Linked DNA regions of Homo sapiens. The protein of the gene in region 3 interacts with the protein of the main gene of each other region in a biochemical or structural test. Each region holds a gene or a part of one and is shown on either strand. Other genes may lie near its edges.

What was found.
Region 1: the proteins of FLNA (region 3) and ASB2 form a complex in vitro, tested with the Homo sapiens proteins (3 studies listed by BioGRID, with this or other methods).
Region 2: the proteins of FLNA (region 3) and ITGB1 form a complex in vitro, tested with the Homo sapiens proteins (3 studies listed by BioGRID and IntAct).

Annotation. Positions count from the first base shown.
Region 1 is NC_000014.9:93,973,571-93,980,937, forward strand, and holds the start of ASB2 (ankyrin repeat and SOCS box protein 2), read right to left. Parts: upstream 3,001-7,367; 5' UTR 2,864-3,000; intron 1-2,863. UniProt on the Homo sapiens protein: Substrate-recognition component of a SCF-like ECS (Elongin-Cullin-SOCS-box protein) E3 ubiquitin-protein ligase complex which mediates the ubiquitination and subsequent proteasomal degradation of target proteins.
Region 2 is NC_000010.11:32,920,231-32,927,230, reverse strand, and holds part of ITGB1 (integrin beta-1 isoform 1A precursor), read left to right. Parts: intron 1-1,121; coding exon 1,122-1,360; intron 1,361-3,490; coding exon 3,491-3,646; intron 3,647-4,495; coding exon 4,496-4,591; intron 4,592-4,884; coding exon 4,885-4,974; intron 4,975-6,845; coding exon 6,846-6,986; intron 6,987-7,000.
Region 3 is NC_000023.11:154,347,945-154,350,702, forward strand, and holds the end of FLNA (filamin-A), read right to left. Parts: intron 2,264-2,758; coding exon 2,087-2,263; intron 1,924-2,086; coding exon 1,705-1,923; intron 1,622-1,704; coding exon 1,418-1,621; intron 1,093-1,417; coding exon 905-1,092; 3' UTR 587-904; downstream 1-586. UniProt on the Homo sapiens protein: Promotes orthogonal branching of actin filaments and links actin filaments to membrane glycoproteins. Anchors various transmembrane proteins to the actin cytoskeleton and serves as a scaffold for a wide range of cytoplasmic signaling proteins.

The DNA.
Region 1 (7,367 bases), on a different chromosome or scaffold from region 3:
AAAGTCAAGCTTCCAGTTTACTTCTTTGGGCCCCTGAGCTATTGAGTCTCCAGGCCCATGGGTGACCTTCGTCTCCACCTCCTGAGTGAAGGGCCCTTCTGCTGCCTCCTGGCCCTGCCAGAGGCTGGCCCCTCCCCGCATCTGTGTGGCTCAGACACTCACAGCTCAGGACACAGGATTCCAGGCCCCTGACCCATATTCTGCCCAGGCACTACCAATGCCAGGATCTGCCATCTGTGCCAGTGACCAAAGGTGGGGGTGACAGGGGTGGACGGGGCTGGTCAGTCCACCTCTGAGCCTCCCCAGCACCCCTGCCCTAGCACAGCCCGCCTAGCCCTGTTCTGTCCTTTGGGCAGACAAAGACGGCGGACCCTCACCTTGGTTCCTTAGTGGCAGAAGACACAGGGGGTTCTGGAGGCTTTAACTCCAGGCAGCAGAGCGGGAAGGCTCAGGCAGGGCAGGGGGAATCCTCCATAGCCCCTCCTCACCTGCAGGGCTGGCTGGAAATCTTTTAAGTTAGATCTCACCCAAATCGGCGAGGTTCTTTTTCCTTTTTTATCCTCTCTCCTCTGAGTTCCCCTGACCCCGCCTCCATTTAAATCTTTCTCTTCTCTTTTCTCTGCTTTCCTCTCTCCTTTTTTACTCCTCTATGTCCCATTCTTTTTAAAAAACAGATAGTTTAGGAATTTCAATTTACCTTTATTTCAGCACCACCTCCCCAAAAACATTCCTCCCAACCACAAAGCTCTTAATAACTTCATTTATATTCCTGGGCGTTAATTATTCCAAACAATGGTGCTAAGGAAAGAGAACCACAGACACAAGCCACTCCTGTGACAGCTGGCTCCTGTGGGCAGCCTGATCCTCTGCAGCGCAGAAATGGAAGGACACTGGGCAGGCCCAGAGATATTTTTGTGCCTCCTTTGGGAAGGCTCTTTGGATCTAGCCTGTCCACAATATACGGGCACCTTATGATGCCTTGAGTGTGCCAGAGACATTTCCCCTGGGTGCACGATGGTCCTGTTTACCACTGCCACAGTACCTTGAGAGGCCACAGGACGCTGTGGCTTTGAATGTGGACCTTGCAGACCAAAAGGTCAGATTCCTGACTCCAACACTTGCAGCCGTCCAGCCTTAAGCAAGACTTTTAAGCTCTCATAACCTGTTTCCAGACCTGAAAATGGGAGTAACGATCACCTGTAACTCATGGTAGCCTTGACCGAAGTCAGTGAGAGAAATCTGCACACAAGCTTGGGCCAGTGCTCAACAAAGGCTTGCTGGTATGGCCTGTGTTGTTGTTCACTGTGAGGTCACCGTGCGTGGGTTAGACAGTGTCCCCCACCCCCGCCACCACAAGGCACTCATGACCCGGCCTGTTTGTGCAAGAACAGATGATGCAAACCAGCATGGCACCCAGCGGAGCTGCTGCCAGCTTCTTGGGGACGCTGTGCAGCACATGGGCCTGCCACCAGCTGTCAGGACCCGTCCAACTGTTTTGGAAGTGCCTCGAGCATCTGCCACTGTCTGCCTCATGGTGCTTCTGCCCAGGCAGAGGTCAGGGCTGTGGCGGGGGTGCTGGCCCCAGCTGGCTCTGCCTGCGTCCCTCTGAGCCCCCTCAAGCCCTCGCCTCACGAAACAAGCTTATCTTCAGAAGAGCATTCCTGTCCTGTGCAGGGGCTCAGCTTCTGCCCTGCTTCAGGCCTTCCTCATTTACCTGCCCTCCCTAGGAGTCACCAGCCTCCTTGCCTCCTCATTCCAGTGCATACCCCTGGCTTCCCGAAGAGCCACCGAAGCCAAATCTCACATCCTCCAAGGGGAATGGGCCACTGAAATGAAAATGATTCTCCACCTAGAGGCACCAGAAACCAAGTCATGTTTCTGGGCCTCCACCTCTGGGGCCTGAGATGTGAACACACGGGTGGGAGTGTAGGTGCCTGGCTGTGTCCCTTCATATCCCAGATGCTCAATGCATGTGGCTATGTGCATGCCGTCCTCTGCTCAAAAACTCTCAGAAAGTGTTCCAACTTCTTGCTTGGCCTGGAAGGATGTGCCTCTCCCTCTGGCCTCCCCTTCTAGCCTCACCCCCATTTTTCACATGCAGAACCCTTTGCCAGAGCCACATTTCACTTTCCATCATCACCCCAGGTCCCTTGACTTCCCTGCCTTTGCCCAAGCTGCTCCTCCACCTGGAGGTCTCTGTTTCCACCCTGAGGCATCCCACCCATCCTTTCAAAGGCCATGGCCTCCTTAAATGTGTCATGCATATGCGTGTGCACACACATGCATGGTATTCTTGCATCCCTGCATTCCACAGCTTTGTTGGATCTCACATAAATAACATTCCTCCATTTCCTCTCCTAATCCCCAAACAGTTGAAAGCAGAGCACATGGCACCTTGGCTGCTATGGTCTCCCACAATACCGTGCATGCCTAGGCACTCTGCAACAGCTACATTAAATTAACTCCCACTCATGAAAACCTCTATCTGTGCGCCTGGCCTGAAAGCATTTCTGAAAGTCACTTGTCTGACACAGATACCGCCCAAGACCTACAGACCCAACAATAGCATCATTGATAAGTCCTTTTGCATTTCCATTTTTAGAAGTGCACAGCAGAGTGATATTCTGAGCCAGAGTCCTCCAGAAGAATGGGTAAGTACATGCAAATTGCTGAGTCTCTGTTCATTGCATCCAAAACGAAAGTCACCAGCGTGCTGTATAACTCAAGAAAATACGAGAGAGAGGGAAAAGCAACATCACAGTTTGACTACAAGCGGTTTCCAGTAAGTACTGCAGCCGAAAATCCCCACCAGCCAAAGAATCTTTTGCAAGATCTGTATAAGAAAGTTGAAAGCATGCATTACCTGTTAGGCTCTGAAACAAGGGTACAATTCAGGGGTAATACAAAGGATTTTCTTGAAAGTGTCTTAATTCAGAACATGCTCCCCGAGTTTTCCTTCTGCCCTGGCCCCAAGCTTCTGGCTGCTCTGCCAGGCAGTTCTGAAACGCTGTCCTTTGAAGCAGGGAGTTTATTTTGGGGCCACCGCATGACCAACGTTGACAAGCCAAACTATAAGATGTTATACATCTCAGATTTCCTGTTTGGAGGTTGCACTGAGGAAGCTGCAATCCTGCCTTCCGTTCCTCCGGGTGCATCGAATACAGACTCTCACTTCAGAGAGGATCCCGGAGCTTTGGCCCTCACGTGATGTCATCATTTGTGATCCTTGACATGGAGGCCATATATGGGTATGTTTCTGGAACTACCCAGGGGAGAGCCAGACAGGAGAGAGATGCAGTGGGTCAGAGACAGAGGCAGGGAACGAGGACGAGGAGACGCATAGTTGGGAGACAAAGAGTGAGGAGCAAGGGAGGAGGAAGAAAGGGGAAGAGGAGAAGTAAAGGCAACAAAGGAGGGAAGGCAAGACAGCAGGAAGGAAGAGGATGGAGTGAAAGAGAAGGGAAGAAGGGGAGAGAGGAGATGAAGGAGTTGACGTAAAAGGGCTTTGGAGAAATCAAGGTTTGGTGCTGAGCTTGTGGCAGCATTTGGGGATAGCAGGTGTCTGGCTGCTGGATACTGTGGGGTGGGGCTGGGGATACAAAGGGCCAGGGTACAAATGAGCCAACAAACAAACACAGAGGCATGCGGGCAAGCCCTGGGCAGAGATATACAACAGAAGAGAGCCCTTCCTCCTGGTCTAGGGAAGAACGTCCCATTTCTGGAATAGGTCAAATGTCAAAGACAACACATACACAGCCACATGCACTGAGCATCCGGGATGTGACAGGACATGGCCAGGCACCTACTCTCCCACCCGTGTGTTCACATCTCATGCCTCAGAGTTAGGGGTCCAGAAACATGACTTGGTCTGTTCCTCTAAGGGGAGAATCATTTTTGTTTCAGTGGCCCATTCCCCTTGGAGGATGTGGATTTATGATGGCCACAGCATGATTTCTCACTGATTCAAACTCAGGAAACCTCAGGATGCCTTTACACGCACTTCGAATATTCCACAAGGAAATACATCTCAGTATACAAGGTGCCACGGGGTTGAGTCAAGGTTCTGGAGGTCTGACTGGTGCTAAAGATGGGAAGGACACCAGTGGTCCCCAGGCAGTCCCCCAGCTTCCCTGGTACCTGCCAAATTGCTCATCACCCCAGCTGGGTCAGTCTTCCCAGGCCACTGTGGCTGGGTGGCCCTCAAAGTTAGCTCAAGTTCAGCCCCTTCCAGACCCATGTGCTATGGAGGGAGTGTAGGAGAAGGGCAGAGAAGGGGCTGTCAGATTCTTTTTACTTTTTGGAGACTCTGCTACCCAGTAGGATGTTCCCCGAGAGACGTCTCTGTGGGACGGCTCCCCGAGGCCGGGCTGCTTTCCTGGGCTCCTTGCTGGAGGCAAAACACAGGTTCCTCTACTTCCTGCCCACCACCTGCCCCTTCCCAATCTGACCTGGAAGGTGGGCTGTGGCCAGGCCAGGCCCCTCCTAGGTTGCCCTCTGCCTCATGGGCATGCACACATGCACACACACACACACACATACACACCCCAAACTCCATCCAAGATGTGTCTATTCCTTCCCTCCCCTTGAATATGGGGTGGCCTAGTGATGGACTTAACAATAGAATGCAGTGGAAATGATGTCCTGAGACTTCCAAGGCTAGGTCATGAGATGCTTTGTAGCTGCCATGTTGTGAGGAAGTCCAAGCAAGCAACACCCAGGGCCCCCAGAGCATCTAGCACCAGGCAGAGGGGTGAAGACACCCTCTCGGAGGTGGATCCTTCACCTGCAGCTGCCACAGCTAATGCCACGTGGAGCAGAGACAAACCACCCACAACTTCCTGACCCATAAACCACAAGCTATGATAAAAGGATTGTTTCGTGCCACTGGGGATTGAGGTAGTTTGATATGTAGTAATAATCAACCCAGACACTCACCAAATATTCACTGCGGTCTCAGCTGCATGCTCCTCAGCTCTCGTGTGCTACCCGTGAACTTTTTTCTGACTTTCCACTTGTCTTTGTTTCCATTTAAAAGAAGAAAAACAGATTCAAACTAAATTTTTTTTTACCTCACTCTTTACAAAAGAATGTAGTCCCAAGTCATTTCCCAGTTCTTGGGTTTATCAGACCAGAAGCTCCTTTTGGCTGAGATTCTGTCTTACAGGGGAATTGTGGTCCCTCTAACTGGAGGGACTCTTGGCTATCCTGGTGTTCAGAGCCCTCATTTACTAGTTCAGGCCCCAAGAGGTTCTGTGCCTTCTCTGAGATCACCTGGCAATTTGGGGGCAGAATAATTCACACATTGAAAGCCATGCCAGTGGGAACCATGCCCCATGGGATCAGACGCTGATGTCCTAAAGCACAGACACTCTCCTGACAAAGGCAGGGACAGCGTTCAAGCATCTGACTCGAGCCTGTGGAGGGCAGGCAGTGTGACCCAGAGGAAAGAGAACTGTGCTGGGATCTGGCCCTAGCTGCTCATTAGAATCATATTACACTTACCTATGCCTGCCCCACCCCAGAGATTCTGATTTAAATAATCTGTGTCGAGGCCCAAACAGGACTGATTTTTAAAAACTTTTTATTAAAGTTCAGTATACCCACAAAAAAGTGCAACTTTCACATATGTACAGCCCAGTACATTTTCACAGACTGGACACACCCAACATCTGAATATTACAAGCACCTCAAGAGCTCCCACCACCCACCACCTCCTGCCAGGGGTGACCACTCTCCTGACTGCTAGCAGGACAGGTTCCTTTGAACTTCATGTGAATGAAATCATTGCGTCTCGTTTCATTTAACAACACATTGCGAGACCTGCCCATATTGTTTCATGGAGTTGTAGATTGTTATTTTAATTGCTGTGTAGTATTCCATGCTATGAATATATCACAATTTATTCATTCTACTGTTGATGGACATCTGGGTGGTTCCCAGTTTTGGGCGATGATGAAGAGTGTAGCTATGAACATTCTAGTACATGTCTTTTGGTAAATATTCATACTCCTTTCTCTTGGGTATACACCTAGGATGGGGATCACTGGGTCAGAGTTTAGGTCTTCTTTCAACTTGAGTGAAACTGTCACATGGCTTTCCAAAGTTGTGTCAGTTTGCACTCCCATCAACCAGGCATAAGAGTTCCAGTCACTCTATATCCTTACCAACAATTGGTAGATTCCATCTTTTTTCTTTTTTTTTTTGAGATGGAGTCCTGCTCTGTTGCCCAGGCTGAAGCGCAGTGGTGAGATCTCGACTCACTGCAACCTCCACCTTCTGGATTCAAGCGATTCTCTTGCCTCGGCCTCCCAAGTAGCTAGGATTACAGGTGCCCACCACCACGCCCAGCTATTTTTTTTGTATTTTTAGTAGAGATGGGGTTTCACCATGTTGGCCAGGCTGGTATCGAACTCCTGACCTCAGGTGATCTGCCCGCTTCAGCCTCCCAAAGTGCTGGGATTACAGACGCGAGCCACCGCACCCAGCCTCCATCTTTTTTCATATTATCTATTTTGATGGGCATCCGTGGCATCTTGTTGCAGTTTTAATCTGCACACCCCTGATGACAAATTACGGTGAGCATTTGAGCAGCCCTGGCCTCAGTGATCTCTGGAGCCTTTCCGGGGTCCCTAACTTTGCACAAGGCCCACCAGCTACCCTGGGAACAGCCCTCCAGGGAGGGTTTTTGTGGGGAAACAAAGGGAATAGAAGGGGAATAAAAATGCAGAGGCAGAAACTATGCAACTGATCAACCTGCAAGGGAGTGGGAAGAAGAATGTGGCCACCACAGGAAAGCCCCAGGACTCACACCTGGAACCAAGGTGGGTTTCACTCTCCCAAGCCTAACTAGAACCTGCCCTCCCTTACTCTACCCCCTCACCTGGCATTATCCTCCCTGCTGACCTATTCTATATTTATCTCCCATATGTGCATTGCCTGTTTCTTCCATCTAGAATACTTTGTCCTTCTGTTCACTGCTGTGTGTCGGTGTCTATAGCAGTGCCTGGCACATAAGAGATGCCCATTCCATAACTGTTGGACATGTGTGCCCACACTCAAGCCCACAGTCCCTGAGGCAGAATTGGGAAGGGCCTTGGTTCTGCCTGCCAACCCGAGCCTGGCCGGTGGCTACAAAGACACACACACACTTTAGGTCTCTCCCTTCCAGACATCCCTCTCTGTTTATGTCAGCCTGAATGCCCAGGAATAAAGGGGTGCATGTATGTATTGGAGAGGCCATTTGCAGGGCCCTATACCTAGTCGGGTCTAGGGGGAACCAAGACCAGCACATGTTTCTGTGACAGTGACACCTCTTCCAGAAGGAGGGAAGGAGAGTGGAGGAGGAAGAGCCAGCCAAGAGCCCCCGG
Region 2 (7,000 bases), on a different chromosome or scaffold from region 3:
AGCCCTATTTTAGTGGAAACATTTAAAAATAGCACTTGCTTAAAATGTTCTTTTATTCTGTAAGCATAATTCAAGGACCATGGCATTAGGGAGCTCCTATCAAATTAGTGTTTTTTAAAATGGCCAGAATTCTAGAATATTTGTTTATTCATTTGTTCAGCATGTCATTATTGAGAGCTGGTGTGCCAAGAAAATGAATGTGAGTTATTTTTAAAGTAGGGAGGCAAAATAAAAAGATTGTCTTAGGTCTTAGTCCATTTGTGCTGCTTTAAGAAAATACTATAAACTGGGTGGCTTATGAACAACAGAAATTTATTTCTCACAGCTCTGGAGGTGAGAAGTCCAAGATCCAGGCAGATTGAGCATCTGGTGAGGTCCCTCTTCTGGGTTCATAGATGATACCTTCTTGCGATGTACTCACATAGCAGCAGGGAGACAGCAGCTCTCTGGGGCTTCTTTGATGAGGTCACTGTAGGAGTCTATTCTTACGTTGCTATAAAGACATATCTGACACTGGGTAATTTATGAAGAAAAGAGGTTTAATTGGTTTACGGTCCTGCAAGCTCTACAGGAAGCATGGCGCTAGCATCAGCAAGGCCTCTGGGGAGGCCTCAGGAAGCTTCCAATCGTGGCAGAAGGCAAAGTGGGGAGCAGGCTTCTCACATGGTGGGAGCAGGAGCAAGAGTTGGGGAGAGATGCCACACAATTTTAAATAACAGATCTCATGAGAACTCACTCACTGTGGTCAGAATAGCACCAAGCCATGAGGGATTGATCTGCCCCCATGATCGAAATACCTTCCACCAGGCCGTACCTTCAACATTGGGGATCACATTTTAACATGAGACTTGGGCGGGGACAGATACCCAAACTGTATCAGTTACTAATCCCATTCATGAGGGCTCTGCCCTCATGATCTAATCACCTTCCAAAGGAACCACTTCCTAATACCATCATGTTGGGAATTAGGTTTTCAATGTAGGAATTTTGGGGTAACACAGACATTCAGTCCATAGTAACCTACATTTGGTAACATAGATGAATTTTTTAAACAATGCAAATCTCTGTCTTTCCATCTATCCATCCATTCATTCATTTATGTACCATTTTTTTCTTGGCAGGATTTGGCTCATTTGTGGAAAAGACTGTGATGCCTTACATTAGCACAACACCAGCTAAGCTCAGGAACCCTTGCACAAGTGAACAGAACTGCACCAGCCCATTTAGCTACAAAAATGTGCTCAGTCTTACTAATAAAGGAGAAGTATTTAATGAACTTGTTGGAAAACAGCGCATATCTGGAAATTTGGATTCTCCAGAAGGTGGTTTCGATGCCATCATGCAAGTTGCAGTTTGTGGAGTAAGCGCATTCATTTCCTATCAGGGGATATTGTTTCTATTATGTGTGTGAATTTTAAGTGTGATTTTACTATGATAATAGAAAAATTGACCTTAATTTTCATAGATTTGATTATCTTAGAGAAGTAATTTTAAGTAAACCCTTAAATTGCCTGTATACATAAAGTGCCTTTATAAAAGCATATTTAATCTTTATGCAAACCACACAGTTAGTTTATTCATGCGGGCTTTTAAAAGACAGAATGCTAACCATTTGAAACAGCGGGGCAACCTCTCTGTACTGTAGCTGGTGGTCTGGATTTTAGAAAAGCCCATGTGTCCTAACTTTCTGGCTTTGTACTAGAGATAGAATTGATGTTATTATCTGAGGCATCACCAGGAACCTTGAAATTGCTCAAAGGGAGAGTGTCTTGTATCATTTTCCTTTGGTCAGTTTTCTTCTCACTGTCTTTGAAAGACACATCTTTCTCCTGTGTCTTAGTAATTCAAAAAGAGAGAACTTTTTAAGCTCTAGTTTTTAACCTATATGAATAGATGTATTTTGAGAAGTGATACAATATTTGTAATTTTAATTGTAAGATTTTCAGTAGCAAGCCCATCCCTATTGGTTCAATAATTTGTATTTTATGATCCATGTAGCAGCTATGTATTTTGAGATGACACTTTAATGATGTGGCTGAGGCTGAAACTAGAAGACATTGTCATGTCAAGTTTGTCCTGCGTACCTACTCTTGTCTCATTTTTGTTCCCTCCAGTGCCCCCATTCTCTAGATGACCTTCTTTGATTTTAGAGGCCTCTTAGTGGTTATTTTTCAGTCAATTTTTGCTAAGGTGCTAATTGATGCCCAAAATAATAAGTGAAGGAATATGGATAGTAATTAAGAATTTTTCTATCACCACTGATGCTGGGCAATTTACTCAGCCTCTCCAGGGCTGTTTTCTTCTCTTTAAGAAGGGATCATGATAGTATCTACCTCATAGGGCTCTTGTGAAGTTAAAATGCATCAATCTCTATAAAGTACCAATGAGCATTCAGCAAATACTAATTCCTATATTGTTATTACTTTCGACTTTTCACTAGAGTGTTTGCAATTTAAGGTTAGTCCCTGCTGTTATAGCCGAAGCAAGTAGCATTCCAGGTAGTACCTAGCCTTACACCTCTTTTCTTACTAGCCATTGATGTGTGAGCCTGTTAGCAGCTCGTTGTGGGGAGGGCATTCTCTGGGCTGCCTCTAACTAGGCCTTAACCTGTGGTATTAAACAAGCCATAACACCCTTGATTGTGGCTGTTTTTCTGTGTTGGTCATGCTGATCCACTCCTCTAGATGCAAAAGAATCAGACATTCCACTTTTGAAAGATTGCCAGTATTAATAAATGTGATTCCCACCTTAAAGTATTTTACTGTCTTATGAAGATCTAAACAGACGTATTAAATAAATTAACGAAAGCAGGTAAATTCCTATAGTCCTATGATTTTATAATTATAAATTACCATAGTGACAAGAAGATTTTACAGTTACTTTAGATTCTTTATTGGAAAGGGCAAGGATAAAGTAAATGAGTGCATAAACAGTACTGATTGAGGAGTTAGAATGGGTGAAATTATCCTTAAACAAGATACTTATTTCTGTTATAAAAAAAGGAAGCCTCATATGGTGGGCTGATAAAGAAGGTGCATGGCATAGAACATAGAGCAGAGATGGGTGGATGGGGACAAGACAGCAGCAGTGGGGTAAAGTAAGGATAGGCTCAGACACTTTCATTTATTCAGCAAATGCTCATCAAGGGCTTACTGCTTGCCAAGCAGTGTGCTGGCTTGCTAGCTGCTGGAGATATGATGATAAGCAGAACTAAACCAAACCAAACAAAACAAAAAAACAGTTTTTAAAAAGAACTGAGAGATTGAGAGATACGGATGGTCAGGCAAGATATCGTTGTACATGGGATGGAAGAGCTTCATTCAGTGGGCTTTGTGTGTTTCTCAGCAAGATAATTACCATTGTATAAAGAGAAGACACAGAAAATACAGAATTAGGTTAAAAATACAATGGTGGCCTATATGAAAATTAAAGGATTTTTGTTGAATTACTGTGAATAGTGTTTTAAAATTGAAATCCTTTTCTTTTCAAGTCACTGATTGGCTGGAGGAATGTTACACGGCTGCTGGTGTTTTCCACAGATGCCGGGTTTCACTTTGCTGGAGATGGGAAACTTGGTGGCATTGTTTTACCAAATGATGGACAATGTCACCTGGAAAATAATATGTACACAATGAGCCATTATTATGTAAGTGCCTGGTTCCTTACATAGTGAATGTGTTTATGTTGGATTTTAATGTTTAATACTAAGAGCTTGTGGGTGACTGGCTTGGGGTTTCTCAGGGTTTGAGGTTTTGCTGTTTTGGTAAGTAGGGGTCCTGATTGAAAGTGCAGGAAAGCTAGTGTTGCTGTTTGTGAAGATGCAGCTTTGTATTTGCTTCCTTCTGCTCAGACAAGGGCCTCACTGGGGTGGGAAAGGGATGCCCAGATGCCACTTTCACTCTTTGCCTCAACTCCCCGCCCACAGCATTTGGTAGCACAGTCAGTACTCTTTCTAAATAAATAATTTATCTAGTCTCATACTCTTTGTTTTATACGATTTTTAAAAGCAGTCACTCTGCCTTTATTGAAAATAAATATTGGCAAAGCATTCAAGTTCTAGAAGAAATCCAAATGGTAAATCTTGGTCTTTTTCTTAAGTTGTAGATAATAGAATATTTAATTACTGACTATTCTTTAATTTCATTGTCCTTATATTTAATATACATAGATAAACTTACTATTTAAAACCTTTTGAATATGGAATTTTTTATTCATACATGAAAGTAAAGAGAAGAGGATTAGCAATTCATGTATACACACGACTCACTTCAGCAGTTTATATTTGATACTGTTATTTGAAAGCAGTCTTGTAATCTAGTTATATGTATGCAACTAGATGTAATCTAGCTATATATGGATTATATATGTAATCTAGTTATCTAAAGCAGTCTTGTAATCGAGTTATGTGTAATCTTGCATGTATAACTAGATTGAAAAATTAGAAGAGATTATAAGGGTGTATTTAAATACTAAATTATATTACTTGATTTCTTAGGATTATCCTTCTATTGCTCACCTTGTCCAGAAACTGAGTGAAAATAATATTCAGACAATTTTTGCAGTTACTGAAGAATTTCAGCCTGTTTACAAGGTAAATGTGTGAGATAAAAAGAACAAGATTCTAAACATTTTTGATTGTTAGAGGCAAATCATGTCTGAATTGAAATGTGGGAAAATGCCACCAGATAGGCAAACCGAATTTTACAAAAGTGGTTTATATTAATTTTTAATCACATATTATAAAACTGGTTTCTAGGTTTGACTCCTAAAGTTAGTTAGGAGGAAACATGGGAACTGGCATTTAAAGATAAAAGTTGCTCAGTGGATCCTAATTGGTTGAATGAATAGCAGTTGTATTTTACGTGTTTTATCTTTTAATTGCAGGAGCTGAAAAACTTGATCCCTAAGTCAGCAGTAGGAACATTATCTGCAAATTCTAGCAATGTAATTCAGTTGATCATTGATGCATACAATGTGAGTACATCTTAAATAAGATCAGTTTTGGACAATACCCTGTTGAGAATACTTTGTACAAAGAAAGTAAAACTTCCTTCATACACACTTTAGCGAGCCCAAAGTACTACAGAAAAACTTAAATTCTGTATGTATCTAGAGGAAAAACTTTATACATATTGTCTTACAAAAGCAAGATTCATGGCCTAAACAAAGTGAAAATGTGATAAAGGCATGTGGGGAGTATTTCCAAATAACTGTTTGTTTATCATTAAGGAATAGATCTCCTTGTTAGAAAGCAATTGTAAAACATAACTTACATTTAAACTTACAGGATTTCTCCAATCTTTTTCCTCCCCAAAATATCCTTTATAGAGTCATCTATTCTGATGAATTGTGCTAGAAAAGTTTTTTTTTTTGCCAATTCTTCTCTTCCCATATATTCAGAGGATATGGGTTTCTATTTCAGGAGGTACACACTCATATATACGTATACCATAAAATATATAAAAATGTAAATATACATGTGATTTGCCTATTTCAAAAAGATTTATAGTGTTGTTTTCCCCTCACAGATGGGAGGAAGTTGAATTGAAATTAAAGAGGAATTGGCTTATCCTTTTTGAGCATAATTCAGTGTACTTTAATCACACCGAGTTAGCCTTCATTAATAATCATTTAAATAATCTGAAGGCGGTTGTAATTTGGTAGGTAACCCTTGTGTGTCTCGTGCACCACTTTCAGCCCCCATCCCCCTAACCCTTTGGCAGCTTGAATTTTAGACATTTTTACTTCATGTCATGGGGGTACCATAACGCTTTGGAAAGGCCAGCCTACCATATGAGGCTTCCCTTTTTTATGGGGTACCATAATGGTTTGGAAAGGCCTGACTTGGAGGGGTTTTTATAAAGGTTTTTAATATTTTACTTGTTCCACAGCTTTTCCCATTCTCCCCTGTCTTAGATAATTTTCCTAACTCTTGTTCTTTCAGGGGTGTGAACAAGAGATAGCTTGCCATTGTACCCTTCTCCATTTGTCCTGAATAGTCTCATATGTTAAACAAGCCCTGGCTTGAATCCTTCCTTCTTGGGGGATTTTGTTTTTTTTTTTTTTTGGCTGGGCTACAATGGTTCCTTAAGCAAATTTGTTCCTAGACTGCATAGTTGATTGTTTACCCTAGTCCATAGTTAGCTGGAGAGGTAGGACTACAGAAATGCCATTTTGCCGATGGGGAAGACAGCATTTATTTCGTTTTTTTTTGGGGGGTTTCTGTTTTTGTTTTTGTTTTTGTTTTTTAGATGGAGTCGCACTCTGTTGCTCAGGCTGGAGTGCAGTGGTGTGATCTTGGCTCACTGCAACCCCTGCCTCCCGGGTTCAGGCGATTCTTCTGTCTCAGCCTCCCGAGTAGCTGGGATTACAGGTGCACACTGCCATGCTTGGATAAATTTTTTTTTTTTTTTGTATTTTAGCGGAGATGGGGTTTCACTGTGTTGGCCAGGCTGGTCTCCAACTCCTGAGCTCAGGCAGTCCACCTACCTTGGCCTCCCAAAGTGCTGGGATTACAGGTGTGAGCTACCACACCCGGCCTATTCCACATTTTTAAGACTCCTCCTAATTAGTAACAGCCCTCTGCACTGTGTGATCCTGAGTATTTTAACTCAGTGATTAAAACAGGAATACTCTTTTCAATTGTGTATTTTATTTTAAAGATTTGATCCTTATTAATTAAAACCTGTTTCTCTGGCCTCTGTGTTTTCTAGTTACTCAATTGGATTTGGCTTGTAGATACTTTATTGAAATATATTTTTTTCTGAGCAGTTTATCCATTGGTTTTATGCATTCAAGTAGCATTTTGTTTGACTTTTCCTGTGTATAATTAGGCATTCTTTTAGTCCCTTTCCTCAGAAGTCATTTTGGAAAACGGCAAATTGTCAGAAGGCGTAACAATAAGTTACAAATCTTACTGCAAGAACGGGGTGAATGGAACAGGGGAAAATGGAAGAAAATGTTCCAATATTTCCATTGGAGATGAGGTATGTTGTATAAA
Region 3 (2,758 bases):
TGGAGGGCAGTGGCGCGATCTCGGCTCACTGCAAGCTCTGTCTCCTGGGTTCGCACCATTCTCCTGCCTCAGCCTCCCGAGTAGCTGGGACTACAGGCGCCCGCCACCACACCTGGCTAATTTTTTGTATTTTTAGTAGAGACGGGGTTTCACCGTGTTAGCCAGGATGGTCTTGATCTCCTGACCTTGTGATCTGCCTGCCTCGGCCTCCCGAAGTGCTGGGATTACAGGCGTGAGCCACCACACCCGGCCGGGCCTGCTGTTGATTATCTGGCCACCTCCACCAGGGAGCCTTCCTGACACCACCCTACCCAGTAATGGGCTCTCCTGCCCAGCTCTTTGCCTCCTTGCTGCCTGGGCTCCATTCCAGGTTGCTACATGTTCCTCTCCTTACGTTGGCTTGAACTCAGGGAGGCAGAGGAAGCAAAGATAGATGGTGCCTTCTGGAGTCAGGGTGGGGTGAAGCAGGAGCCCTGGAGGGAGGTGACCTGTGCTCAGCCCATGCTTTGATCTGCTCATTGGCACCCCTGTCAGGTTGGCCTTGACTGGTCCCCCAACCCCAACAAAGCTACAGCCACGCAAAGGAGAATGGAAGCAAAACTTTATTCCTCTTGGCTGGAGAAGAGAACTAGTGGGTGGTTGTGTACAGGACCCCCATCCCTCACCCCTCCCAGAACCAAAGAAGACAAGCAGCGCCACCAAATGGCTCCCTCTGCCCAAGTGAAAGCCGAGAGGTCAGCGGCTGGCTGGGGAGGCAGGTGAGCGCAGCACGGCACAGGGCAGGGGCGGCTGCAGTGACAGGCGGGCGGCCAGGGCGGCCTGGGCCGGGGTTGAGGGGAAGAGGGCGGGGCTGCTTGGGTAGCGGGGCAGGCTTGGGGGCTGCCGGCTGGCACGGGCCCCAGACTCAGGGCACCACAACGCGGTAGGGGCTGCCTGGGATGTGCTCGTCCCCCCATTTGACCACCAGTGTGTACTCCCCCTTGTCCTTGAGCAGGTAGGACACGCTGTAGAGCCGGCTGCCCACGTGCTTCACCAGGATCTCCTCGCAGGGGGTCCTTGGGCCATGAACCCCCACCAGCAGCATGTTGTTGCCTGAGGCAAGAGGGGTCCTCAGTCCCAGGTCCCAGCCCCCTTCCTCCCGCTGGTGTCCTGCTCTCCTCTCCTGTCCCTAAGCCAGTTCTGGGGTGACAGTTCTCTCTTCCTAAAGAGCTGCCAGCACCTCCCCAACCCAGGCCAGCTTAGCAGATTCCAGCTCCTCCCTGGTCTTTGTTTGAGGGGTCCAGGAGGTGGCAGGGAGGTGGCTCTAGAAGTGAAAGCCACGCCCCAAAGGCGGTCCCTGCTCTCCCAGACACTGGCCATCCTGTGATTTCTGGCCTCATTTTGGTGGGAAGGTGGGCCGGGGGCCCAGGTTGCCCACCTGCTTTGCTGCAGTCTACTGTGAAGCTGCTCTTCTGGCCTACGTAGGCCTTGCTCAGCCCCAGGCCCTTGGCCACCACCTTGCTGGCGTCAGCAGGCCCAGGACCCGGGGCCCCATGCTGGGGGGCACAGGTGGCCTTGGTCAGAGAGTCTACAAACACTGATGATGTCTCGTGGAGGCTGTGGTTGCTGACGAGACGGGGGCCTGCAAGGCAGAGTGGGTGGGGCTAAGAGGTGGCTGTGGTGCCGGGCGTTGGGCAGATGCCAATAGCTTGGCCCCAGGCTCACCTGTGACTTTGGCCTTGAAGGGGCTGCCCCCAATGTGGTAGGGGCCGCCGTACTTGATGGAGATGAGGTAGCTGCCAGGTGCCATGGGGGTATAGGTGACGCGGTAGCCCTCAGGGCACTCCTGGCAATCCATCTTCACCTTGGAGGGGCCGTCAATGGTCACCGACAGGGCACCAGCTCCCGCATTGCTCGTGTTCACGACGAACTCAGCTGGGTTCCCTGGGAGCACAGGAGGTCAGGCAGAGCCAGACTGGCCTGCCTCCCTGTCCTCGGCCACCCAGCACAGGCTTGTCACCTCCAGGTGCCTCCTGTTGTCACCAAGAGCTTGGAGGCAAGGGCCTAGCAGCTGTGTGCACACGTGCAGCCGCACCGACAGACTTACCTGTGACACCGCCTTCCAGACCTGCTCCGTAAGCAGACACCAAGCCTGGGTCCCCTCCATGCCCAGGCTCCCCAACTCGGATCTTGAAGGGGCTTCCAGGGATGTGGGTGCCGTTGAACTTGACGTCAATCAGGTAAACGCCATTCTCCCGAGGGATGAAGCGCACAGCATACTTATCTGAGGAGCAGGGAGTCATGCTGTGGGCCTGGGGCCCCTCCTCAAACCAGCAGATGGTGTCTGTGAGGAACAGCCTCAACCCTGGCCCTCCCCATTTTGCCGGTCCATCAGTGTGAGCCCAGCCACGCTGGGCACCTGCACCCCGCAGCAGACCTCCTGAGGGCCGAAGGTTTAGACACTCAAGCTGCCCACCGTCAGGGTGCATTGGGACGGAAATCTTTTACAAGCCAAACCCAGGCCTTGCTGCCTCCTAAGAAAGGTTACCGTGAACACCATATCCCCTGCATGTTAACAGGCTCAGAGACGGGCAGGAACTTGCTTCAGGTCATGCAGCTGGGAAGGGCAGGACTAGGCCGTGAAATGAAGCCCACTGGGCTCCTCCTACCCACAAGGCTGCCCCAGGCCTGTGCACAAGTACCATGGCCGTGGCTGAAGGGCCGGGCAGCACTGAGGCTGGACTTTGAGTCTTTCCCTGTGGAGATGGCATGGTACTGC